2 separate regions of the Homo sapiens genome follow, and region 1 is linked to region 2. The links come from fine-mapping of genetic effects on gene expression. A gene starts in region 2. The other region holds a variant in brackets. All regions are shown on one strand. Distances are between the middles of the regions.

Region 1 (5,368 bases), 150 kb after region 2:
TCCTCACTTCTTCCCCAGGTAAGGTAACAGAGAGGCTGCGACTTTGCCTTATCCCTTCAGCTCGTGGACTCCTGGGTCACCTCCTTCTTGCATCATTGCTACCCATTTCTTCCATTTGCTACAGAAAACTCTCCAAAAAAAAATTTTTTTTTTTTTGAGACGGAGTCTTGCTCTGTTGCCTAGGCTGGAGTACAGTGGCGGGATCTCGGCTCACTGCAGCCTCCGCCTCCCGGGTTCAAGTGATTCTCCTGCCTCAACCTCCTGAATACCTGGGATTACAGGCATGTGCCATGTAATGTATTTTTAGTAGAAATGGGGTTTCACCACGTTGGTCAGGCTGGTCTCGAACTCCTGACCTTGTGATCTACCTGCCTTGGCCCCCCAGAGTGCTGAGATTACAGGCGTGAGCCACCGCACCCGTCCTCCACATATTTTTAATAAAGAATGCTGGCTGGGTCTGGTGGCTCACACTGTAATCCCAGCACTTTGGGAGGCCGAGGCGGGCAGTTTGCTTGAACTCAGGGGTTCAAGACCAGCCTGGGCAACATGGCAAAACCCCATCTCTACAAAAAATAAAAAAAATTAGCTGGATGTGGTAGTCCCTGTTACTTTTGGAGGCTGAGGCAGGGGGAGCGCTTGAGCCTGGGAGGTGGAGGTTGCAGTGAGCTAATATCATGCCATTGCACTCCCCATCTCTACTAACAATACAAGAATCGGCCGGGTGCGGTGGCACATGCCTGTAATCCCAGCACTTTGGGAGGCCGAGGCAGGCGGATCACTTGAGGTCAGGAGTTTGAGACCAGCCTGGTCAACATGGTGAAACCCCATTTCTACTAAAAATACAAAAATTAGCCGGGCGTGGTGGTGGGTGCCTGTAGTCCCAGCTACTCGAGAGGCTGAGGCAGGAGAATCACTTGAACCCAGGAGGTGGAGGTTGCAATGAGCCAAGATAGTGCCACTGCACTCCAGCCTGGGCGACAGAGTGAGACTCTGTCTCAAAAAGAAAATTTATAATCAAATATTTAATTTTTATAAAAGCACTAAAGAAAATGTTAATGAACGTCCCCATCCCCACCCCCAGCTCACAAACTGCAGTGCAGTAGCACGGTGTGTACTTCCATGGTTATACTCCATTCCCTTTTGGCCCAAGGCAACCAGATTTTGTGTTTGTAATTTTCTTGCTTTTCCTTAGAGTTTGATCACATATGCTGTATCTCTGTAAACAATGTATTTAATTTTACATTTTTGAATTTATATAAATGGTGGCTTATAACACATGTTCCTCTGCCACTTTTATTTTATTCCCTTCATGTGGCAGAGCCTGGTGAGAGAATCATCCATAATTATGTAGTTGAATCTATGTATCATTGTATAAACATAAACATAATTTACCCATTCTATTGCTAATGGACATTTGGATTATTTCTAGGTTTTACTGTTAGAAATAATGCTATTATGAATACTTGTTTCTTTGCCATGTGCCATTTTTATATCAGACTCTCCAGTTGTCTGTTTATTCCGCTTTTCTTGCTCAGCATGCCATCTCTGAGTTTCCATTTCACCATTTTACCAGCCCCTGAAGAGTTAGATGCTGCCTGGACCCATGTCAACTGGGAAAAAGAAGAGAACGGAGACAAATGAAAATACTCAATATATACTCATAGCTCAGAAATGCTGAGTTAATAGCTCATGAATCTCAAGAGAGGTGCAAACCTGTTGGTCATTGGCAAAGGGGCAGATTCGGAACAGTAGGAGCCAGGGTGCTTTTTGGCTTTCTTTTCTGAGCCATGGGCATTCTGTCTCTTGCTCACCCCCACAGGACATGATGAGCTACATTGGGCCCAAGAGGACAGCAGTGGTGCGGGGGATAATGCACCGGGAGGCCTTTAACATCATTGGCCGCCGCATAGTCCAGGTGGCCCAGGCCATGTCTTTGACTGAGGATGTGCTTGCTGCTGCTCTGGCTGACCACCTTCCAGAGGACAAGTGGAGCGCTGAGAAGAGGCGGCCTCTCAAGTCCAGCTTGGGTAGGGCACCAGGCTCTGCCACATGAAGGGAGAGGAAATGAATTACATGGGGCAGGAGGGAAATCTGCATGCCAACTTCTTTCTCCTTTCTTCTCTAGTCTCAATTTTTTTCTTATTTATTTTATGTTATTATTATTATTATTATTTTTTTTAGTTATTTATTTTGAGACGGAGTCTCACTCTGTTGCCTGGGCTGAGTGCAGTGGCACTATCTCGGCTCACTGCAAGCTCCGCCTCCCGGGTTCACGCCATTCTCCTGCCTCAGCCTCCCAAGTAGCTGGGACCACAGGTGCCCGCCACCACTCCTGGCTAATTTTTTTGTATTTTTAGTAGAGACGGGGTTTCACTGTGTTAGCCAGGATGGTCTCGATCTCCTGACCTCGTGATCTGCCCGCCTCGGCTTCCCAAAGTGCTGGGATTACAAGTGTGAGCCACCACACCTGGCCTATTT[A/T]TTTTATTTTATTTTTTGAGACAGAGTCTTGCTCTGTTGCCCAGACTGGAGTGCAGTGGCGTGATCTTGGCTCACCACAACCTCTGCTTCCCACGTTCAAGTGATTCTCACTCCTCAGTTTCCTGAGTAGGATTACAGGTGCATGCCACCATGTCTGGCTAATTCTTGTATTTTTATTTTTATTTTATTTTTTTTTGAGACGGAGCCTCCTGTCGTCCAGGCTGGAGTGCAGTGACGTGATCTTGTCTCACTGCAACCTCCGCATCCCAGGTTCAAGCGATTCCCCTGCCCCAGCCTCCTGAATAGTTGGGATTACAGGCGCCCACCACCATGCCTAGCTAATTTTTGTATTTTTAGTAGAGACGGGGTTTCACCATGTTGACCAGGCTGGTCTTGAAATCCCAACCTCAAATGATCTGCCTGCCTCGGCCTCCCAAAGTGCTGGGATTACAGCGTGAGCCACCACACCCGGCCGATATTTGTATTTTCAGTAGAGATGGGGTTTCTCCATGATGGCCAGGCTGGTCTTGAAGTGCTGGCCTCAAGTGATCCGTCTGCCTCAGTCTCCCAAAGTGCTGGGATTACAGACATGAGCCACAGCGCCCGGCAGCTTTTTCTTACTCAGTGTTCCTCATCCCAGTTTTGTCCTCCTTTTGGTTCCATGATGGAAAGCAGCCCCATTCCAGAGGAGAAACAAGTTCAGCTCAGCTGGGAGTACAGGCTGCCCCTCTTCTTTGATCCACAAGAGCCTCTGACTTCCCTGACTCCTGTTTCTGTAGGCTATGAGATCACCTTCAGTTTACTCAACCCAGACCCCAAGTCCCATGATGTCTACTGGGACATTGAGGGGGCTGTCCGGCGCTATGTGCAACCTTTCCTGAATGCCCTCGGTGCCGCTGGCAACTTCTCTGTGGACTCTCAGGTGAGACCGGGAGCAAGTTGAGGAGTCCTTTTCAATGTCTATACATATTTACAAGTGCAGTCTGTTCCTCCATCTCTTAGAGCTTGCTGATTTGCTAGGAATTTCCTGTGTGTATATGTATGTGAGTGTCATAAGGGTGGGTACTGGGGGTGCGTGTGTGCCCTTGTCTGTGTCCATCCATCCATTGAGGGCAGATTCTGGTGTCTTTACTTCCTTGGCATCCTATTGAGAGAGTTTGTCAGTGCTTGTTAACAAACCACCTTCCTATAGCTCCCTCTAGACCTGTACTCACCAATTGTGCTTAGATGTTAATGCCATGACCCATCTTTTTTTTTTTTTTTTTTTTTTTGAGACAGAGTCTTGTTCTATTACCAGGCTGGAGTGCAGTGGTGTGATCCCAGCTCACTGCAACCTCCGCCTCCCAGGTTCAAGCGATTCTCCTGACTCAGCCTCCTGAGTAGCTGGGATTACAGGTGCGTGCCACCATGCCCAGCTGATTTTTGTATTTTAGTAGAGACGGGTTTTCACCACATTGGCCAGGATGGTCTTGATCTTTGCCCAGCTGATTTTTGTATTTTAGTAGAGATGGGGTTTCACCACGTTGGCCAGGATGGTCTCGATCTTTTGACCTCGTGATCCACCTGCCTTGGCCTCCCAAAGTGCTGGGATTACAGGTGTGAGTGATGGAGCCCAGCAGAGCCATTCTTAAGGAATTTAGTTTTTAGAAAAATGCTTCCTGAAATTTGTTATTGTAGTAACAATAAAGATGTGAAGGGCCAGGTGCGGCGGCTCACGCCTGTAATCCCAGCACTTTGGGAGGCTGAGGCAGGCGGATCACGAGGTTAGGAGATCAAGACCATCCTGGCCAACATGGTGAAACCCCATCTCTACAAAGATAAAAATTAGCTGGGCATGGTGGCGCGTACCTTTAGTCCCAGCTACTCGGGAGGCTGAGGCAGGAGAATTGCTTGAACCCGGGAGGTGGAGTTTGCAGTGAGCCAAGATTGTGCCACTGCACTCCAGCCTGGCAACAGAGTGAGACTCCATCTCAAAAAAAAAAGATGTGAAGAATGTAGCTTTCTGTATCACGCTGTCTCCTTGTAGGGAAAACACGTGGGAGAAATTTTTATCAGGTCTTCCTAGTGGGAGTAATTGCTTCTGAATAACTGGCTTGATTTGATCTTGTAGACACTGAATTATGCTGTTCTTTGTTTCTCTCTTTGTGTAGACTGTTAGGAAACCTGGTAAAATACGTGATTTTTAAAGCACGTATTTAGTTTATTCAGTTTACCCTTGGCTTTGCTATTTTCTTCTGCAATTATTTTCTCTCAGCCCTGATTTTGTCTCTTATATGTTGCCTTGTCCTGATTGTGTCTTTTTTAAGGCACCTCAAATCTTTTTTGGGAGAAAGTAGAATATAAATCTAAACAAAGTAACCACTCCCTGTTTGCTCTACAGATTCTTTACTATGCAATGTTGGGGGTGAATCCCCGCTTTGACTCAGCTTCCTCCAGCTACTATTTGGACATGCACAGCCTCCCCCATGTCATCAACCCAGTGGAGTCCCGGCTGGGTGAGCACCTAAGGATGAGGGTCTTTCTTTTCTGCCAGGCTAGGGAGGGACCCTGACGGCTCAGCTGGGTAGGGGACAGGAGTTGGAGGTGGATTATATACAGTGATGGTTCCCAGGTTGGGTTGGTCCGAGGAGACTGTGGAGATTGAGGCTCCTTTTTTTCTTTTTTTGAGACAAGGCCTTGCTCTGTTGCCCAGTCTAAAGTGCAGTGGCACAGTCATAGCTCACTGCAGCCTCCAACTCCTGGACTCAAGTGGTCTTCCCACCTCAGCCTCTCGAGTAGCTAGAACTATAGGTATGTGCCACTACACTTGGCTAATTTTCAAAATTTTTTTTAGAGACAGGATCTCATTATGTTGCCCATGCTGGTCTTGAACTCCCCTCAAGTGATCTTC
Region 2 (5,368 bases):
TACGAGCACTTTGGGGCTGGAGTTCTTTGTTGGGGATGATGGATGTGGAATGGGCATGACTGTGTGGCCATTTTGGCACTAGAGTCCCCTGGGGATGCTGTGCTGGCCATCCCTGGCCCCTGGGCAGGTTCAGGTAGGCTGGGAGCTGAAACATCAGTTTGGGGGCTGCACTGGGCCCTCACTGGGTGAAGTCTGAATGGCTGGCTTTGAGAGCCCTTTCCCCTGATCCTTTCCCCACACGTGTCCTCCTACTTGGTGCTTATACCCAAATTTTCACCACTGGAGAATCTTTTTCTTTTTTTCACCCTTTTCTTGCCTTCCCTTTAAGAAGTACTTTTCCAGGCAGGGTGCGGTGGCTCGTGCCTGTAATCTCAGCACTTTGGGAGGCCAAGGCAGGCAGATCACTTGGATTCAGGAGTTCGAGACCAGCCTGGCCAACATGGTGAAACCCGCGTCACCATTAAAATCCAAAAATTAGGCCGGGCGCGGTGGCTCATGCCTGTAATCCCAGCACTTTGGGAGGCTGAGGCGGGCGGATCACGAGGTCAGGAGATAGAGACCATCCTGGCTAACATGGTGAAACTAAAAATGCAAAAAATTAGCCAGGCGTGGTGGCTGGTGCCTGTAGTCCCAGCTACTTGGGAGGCTGAGGCAGGAGAATGGCCTGAACCTGGCAGGCGGAGCTTGCAGTGAGCCGAGATGGCACCACTGCACTCCAGCCTGGGTGACAGAGCGAGACTCTGTCTCATAAAAAAAAATAAATAAAATAAAATACAAAAATTAGCCGGGCGTGGTGGTGCATGCCTGTAACTCCAGCTACTTGGGAGGATGAGGCAGGAGAATTGCTTGAACTCAGGAGTTATAACCATTAACTTTTCTTTCTTTTTTTTTTTTGTTTGTTTTTTTGGTTGTTTATGCCATTAACTTTTATAAGAAAGAAAGGTGACCAAGACCCTGGCTCCCTGTTGACATCTAACCCAGAGTTCCAGAGTAGCTGGAAGCACCTCAGACATCTGGGTCAACAAAGGAGGACTTATGGCCTCGTGTCATCCTGGGAGGCTAAGGGGGTGTCCAAGTTAGAAGGCAGATTCTGGCTCCCAGTTGCCAAGTGCTCTGTCTGTTCCATTCCTGGTTCCATTCTCACCAGGATGGTTGGTTTTTCTGCACACTTCCCTTCTCCTGGCTTCCCCTCCCTCGCAGTTCCTAGACTCTCTAGAGCTACCACGGGAAGGAGGGTCTGGGCAGCAGCCCTACCCACTCCGGACTTGGGTCTGGAGGAAAGTGAAGGTGGGGATCAGGCAGAGCAATAGTAGCAGCAGCAGAGCCCCTGGATGATGGTGGAGAAAACAAGGTGTGGACCCCATCCTTTCTCCTCCTCTTCATCCTGGCTTTGGAAGCTGGTGCCAAGAGAAATGGAGGGGTGTGGTGCATGGAATGTCGTCGATATGGCCATAACTTCTTTTCACACTCTCCTGTGATTGTTTTTTCCATTTCTGTTCCCTCGCAGCACTGGGCTCCTCACCCTTGCCTTGCCTGTTAACAGATGTGTGTGAAGCCAGCACCACAGTCCAGGTGTGGTGTTTGTGCTGCACCGGGTGTGGGAGTTCTGTGTTCCGTGTGCATGTTGTATTAGTCTGTGTGTGGTGAGTATATTCTGTGTGTGTGTGATATATGCATGCGCAGAGTGTGTATGTTGTACCTGAGGGCGTGAGGGGTGTCACTGGGATGAGGTTCCTATGAATGCAGCCTGCCCTGTTCTCCAGATTGTCTATCAGGATAAGCTTACGACTCTCTATTGGGCAGTATTGTCTCTAGAATAGGGTGTCCCCTGGGGGCCAGGGGCGGGAACGCTGCGGGGTGGCGCAGGGGCTGGGAGCCGACATCAGGTCCTCAGCCCGGAGTTAGGTCTTCGGAGAGGCCTGTGGGCGGAGAAAGGGGAAGCCCGGGCTCCACCAGAGGCGGAGGGACCTCGAAGCCCGGAAGGTGGAGGGGAAATGGCGACGCCAGGACCTCCCTGGGCTCAGGGGATCCTCCCATCTCAGCCTCCCGAGTAGCTGGGACTACAAGTGCGCACCACTAAACTAGCTAATTTTTGTATTTTTTGTAGAGATGGGGTTCGCTCTCTCGCCAGCGGGCAGAGGCGGGGCTGCGGCTGGGTTCCCAAGGGTCGGTGGGGCGGGGAGCGGGACGGGAGTGTGCGGTTTAGAGAATGGCCGGGGCGGGGCTAAGAATGGGGCTGGGGGCAAGGCTCGTTGTAACACTAAGAATTGGGGCTACGATCTGGAGGCAGGGTGAAAATCTGGGGTTTGGACTGCAAGCTGGAACCAGAGATGGGTGGTGAGAGCTGGGCCTGTAAGGTTAAGGTCTGAGATAAAGAGGGGCCTGGGAGGCGCCGGAGGCCCCGGATGAAGAACGCGGCTGACGCTGAGACCCAGCTGGGAAGACTACGCAGCCTGGAGCCGGGCTGGGGAGGCCGGCGGGGGCTGCGCCAGCATGAGGCGGGGTTAGGGGCTAGGCGGGGGCGAAGCCGAGACTGGAGTTCACGGCTGGGCCGAGGGCTCGGCCGGGCTGAGGCTCAGGGTTGGACTTCACGCAAGAGTCCTGTAGAGACGAAGACCTGGGCGGAGAGCGATGTGGGTCAGGACGACGCTCACAATTGAAAGATGGACTAAGGAAAAGACCGAGCCCAAGGCCCGCTCGTGGGATGAGAGCAGATGCCGCGGTAAGAGGGGCGGGGCAGGGGCTGGGCAGAGGGCGCGGCCCGGCTCGCAGACCCCGAGCGGCGCACGCGGGAAGCCGGCAAACCGACGAGGGAGACGGGCAAACCAACGAGAGAGGCGGGGCCCAGTGCTGGGCCGGGGCGGAGCTAGGGCCGGGGCGGAGCTAGGGCCGGGGGCGGGCTCGCGTCGAGCCGCGGGCCAATGATTGAGGACTGGGGTCCTGAGGCCCTGCTGGGTCGCCCGCGGGATGGGCGGGAAGTCTGGTTCCAGCCAGAGCTGGAACGCTCGGCTATCGGACTGGGTGGCACCGGGCGCAGGCCGCTGCCCTTGAAGCGCCGGCCTTGGCTGGAGCCCGTGGACCAGCGCCCACCCGGACGCCGGGGCGGGAGCGGGCGGTTCCATCGACCCTGAGGGTGGACCAAGGAGACTGAGGGTTCCACCCGTGGCATCACAATTACCTCCGCGGCGGCGAGGCCAGAGAGGCATTTCCAAGGAGACGCGGGCGCACTGCCCCTCCCTTGCTTCCTCCTCTTCCCTCCTTCCTCTCCTAGTTTCTTCCCTCCCTTCCCGCCCTACTCCTTCCCTCCCTTCCCACCCTACTCCTTTCGGCTGCTCTGGTGCCCACCCCCAGTGCCTCGAGGTCGAGGAGAGCTCCTCGGCCCCGCAGGACGGGGAGGATTCTGTACAGATGAGCATAACTTGTGAGTTTTGAGTTAGGCCTTTGTGCGCCGATTAACGCCTCACGGGGAAAGACGCCATAAGCCTCCCACTTTCTTTCACCCTATCACCCTCCTCATTCATTGTGTGTGTTGTCAGTCACTCCTGCTGCAGGAACTCTGGACTGCTGCTGGTCAGAGGTCTCCTCCTGTCCTCTGGAACTAAAGAGCAGATTGCTTTTCTCAGCTCTGAAGAGAGTTACTAAATTCGTCTCCCCCTTTGTCCTTCCTCCCCTCGTCTCCTTCACAAACAGAGCTGATGGGTGTCCGAGCTCTGGGGGAGCTAGTGAGTGGAGAGTAAACAGGCTCTGACCCTGCATGTGTGCTTTTTTTTTTTTTTTTTTTTTTTGAGATGGAATCTCGCTCTGTCGCCCAGGCTGGAGTGCAGTGGCGCAATATCGGCTCACTGCAAACTCCACCTCCCGGGTTCAAACAATTCTCCTGCCTCAGCCTCCTGAGTAGCTGGGATTACAGGCGCGCGCCACCACGCCCAGCTATTTTTTTTATTTTTTTTTATTTTTAGTAGAGACGGGGTTTCACCATGTTGGTCAGGCTGGTCTTGAACTCCTGACCTCGTGATCCGCCCACCTCGGCCTCCCAAAGTACTGGGATTACAGGCATGAGCCACCGCGCCTGGCCATGTGTGTCTCTTTCATGGTGGCTCCTGAAACAGCAAGGCAGAGGAGTTTTGGTTCCTCACCCTGGCTGAGGTCCCAGCGGCATGACTTTAGGGTCCAGGGTGGATAAGGGAGGCTGTGGAGTCCAGATTGAGTAAAACCAGAGGGTGAGGAATTGGTAGTGTTGGAGCTGAAAAGCAGGTGCAGTAGGAAGTGACTGTGCCTCAAAAAAACACCTGTCCTTCCCGCCGTCTCACTCTGCTGCCCACACTGGAGTGCAGTAGCACGATATCGGCTCACTGCAACCTACACTTCTGGGGTTCAAGCGATTCTCATGCCTTGGCCTCCAGAGCAGCTGGGACTACAGGTATGTGCCACCATGCCTGGCCGATTTTTGGATTTTTATTAGAGAAGGGATTTCACCATGTTGACCATGCTGGTCTCAAACTCCGGACCTCAAGTGATCCGCCCACCTCGGCCTCTCAAAATTCTGAGATTACAGGCATGAGCCACTGCACCCGGCCTGGTAGGACAGGTTTTGCATATGGAGCTGAACGTGATTTATTTTATAAGACAGAATCTCACTCTGTCGCCCAGGCTGGAGTGCTGTGGCTCTCTCAGCTCACTGCAACCTCTGCCTCGCCGGCTCACTCAAGCAGAATGTGGTTTTAAGGCTTGGCTATGGGCCGGGTGCGGTGGCTCACGCCTGTAATCCCAGCACTTTGGGAGGCTGAGGCGGGCGGATCACGAGGTCAGGAGATCAAGACCATCCTGGCTAACACGGTGAAACCCCGTCTCTACTAAAAATACATAAAATTAGCCGGGCATGGTGGTGGGCGTCTGTAGTCCCAGCTCCTCGGGAGGCTGAGGCAGGAGAATGGCGTGAACCCGGGAGGCGGAGCTTGCAGTGAGCCAAGATCCCGCCACTGCACTCCAGCCTGGGCGACACAGCCAGACTCTCTCAAAAGAAAAACAAAACAAAACAAAAAAAAAGGCTTGGCTGTGGAGCTTCACATACAGAATGACCTTTGTTTACAGGGGTGTGTCCCCAGCCAACAGTAAGTAGACAGGGCTGAAAGAGCATAGGCTATGGAACCAGGAAGACCTGGGTTTGAATCCTACTTCTACAGTCTATTAACAATGTATGTTTGGACAAATTACTTATCCTCTCTGAGTTTCTGTGTTCTCATCCATAGAATGGGGCTGTGGTGGGGATTTAGAATCAAAGGCATATATTTTAGTTGAGACAGGGTCTCACTCTGTTGCCCAGGCTGGAATGCAGTGGCGTGATCACGGCTCACTGCGGCCTCGATCT

Which allele goes with the higher level. Alleles are on the strand shown, and positions count from the first base shown. SD is a standard deviation of normalised expression in the study named.
For the expression in sigmoid colon of the gene that starts at base 2,404 in region 2, A is the high allele of the variant in region 1 and T is the other (moderate effect, 0.58 SD a copy in GTEx).

The links. PIP is the estimated chance that this variant, and not a neighbour inherited with it, causes the effect.
Region 1: its variant is the best candidate, but not a certain one, in a credible set for the expression of PROCA1 in sigmoid colon (GTEx, PIP 0.53).

What each region holds. Positions count from the first base shown.
Region 1 is chr17:28,558,081-28,563,448 of GRCh38, reverse strand. PIGS (phosphatidylinositol glycan anchor biosynthesis class S) reads left to right here. Exons shown (of 12, transcript NM_033198.4): 5 at 1-18; 6 at 1,820-2,027; 7 at 3,258-3,400; 8 at 4,859-4,973. Among named protein-coding and RNA genes, the nearest start is that of UNC119, 8.1 kb to the right of the region's middle. The variant A/T (reference allele first, on the strand shown) is at 2,479.
Region 2 is chr17:28,708,924-28,714,291 of GRCh38, reverse strand. It overlaps PROCA1 (protein interacting with cyclin A1), which reads left to right and starts at 2,404. Exons shown (of 5, transcript NM_001366301.1): 1 at 2,404-2,722. The coding sequence starts at 2,632. It overlaps RAB34 (RAB34, member RAS oncogene family), which reads left to right. Exons shown (of 10, transcript NM_031934.6): 10 at 1-8. RefSeq lists enhancers at 1,550-1,629, 2,188-2,963, 2,964-3,739 and a silencer at 2,670-3,169.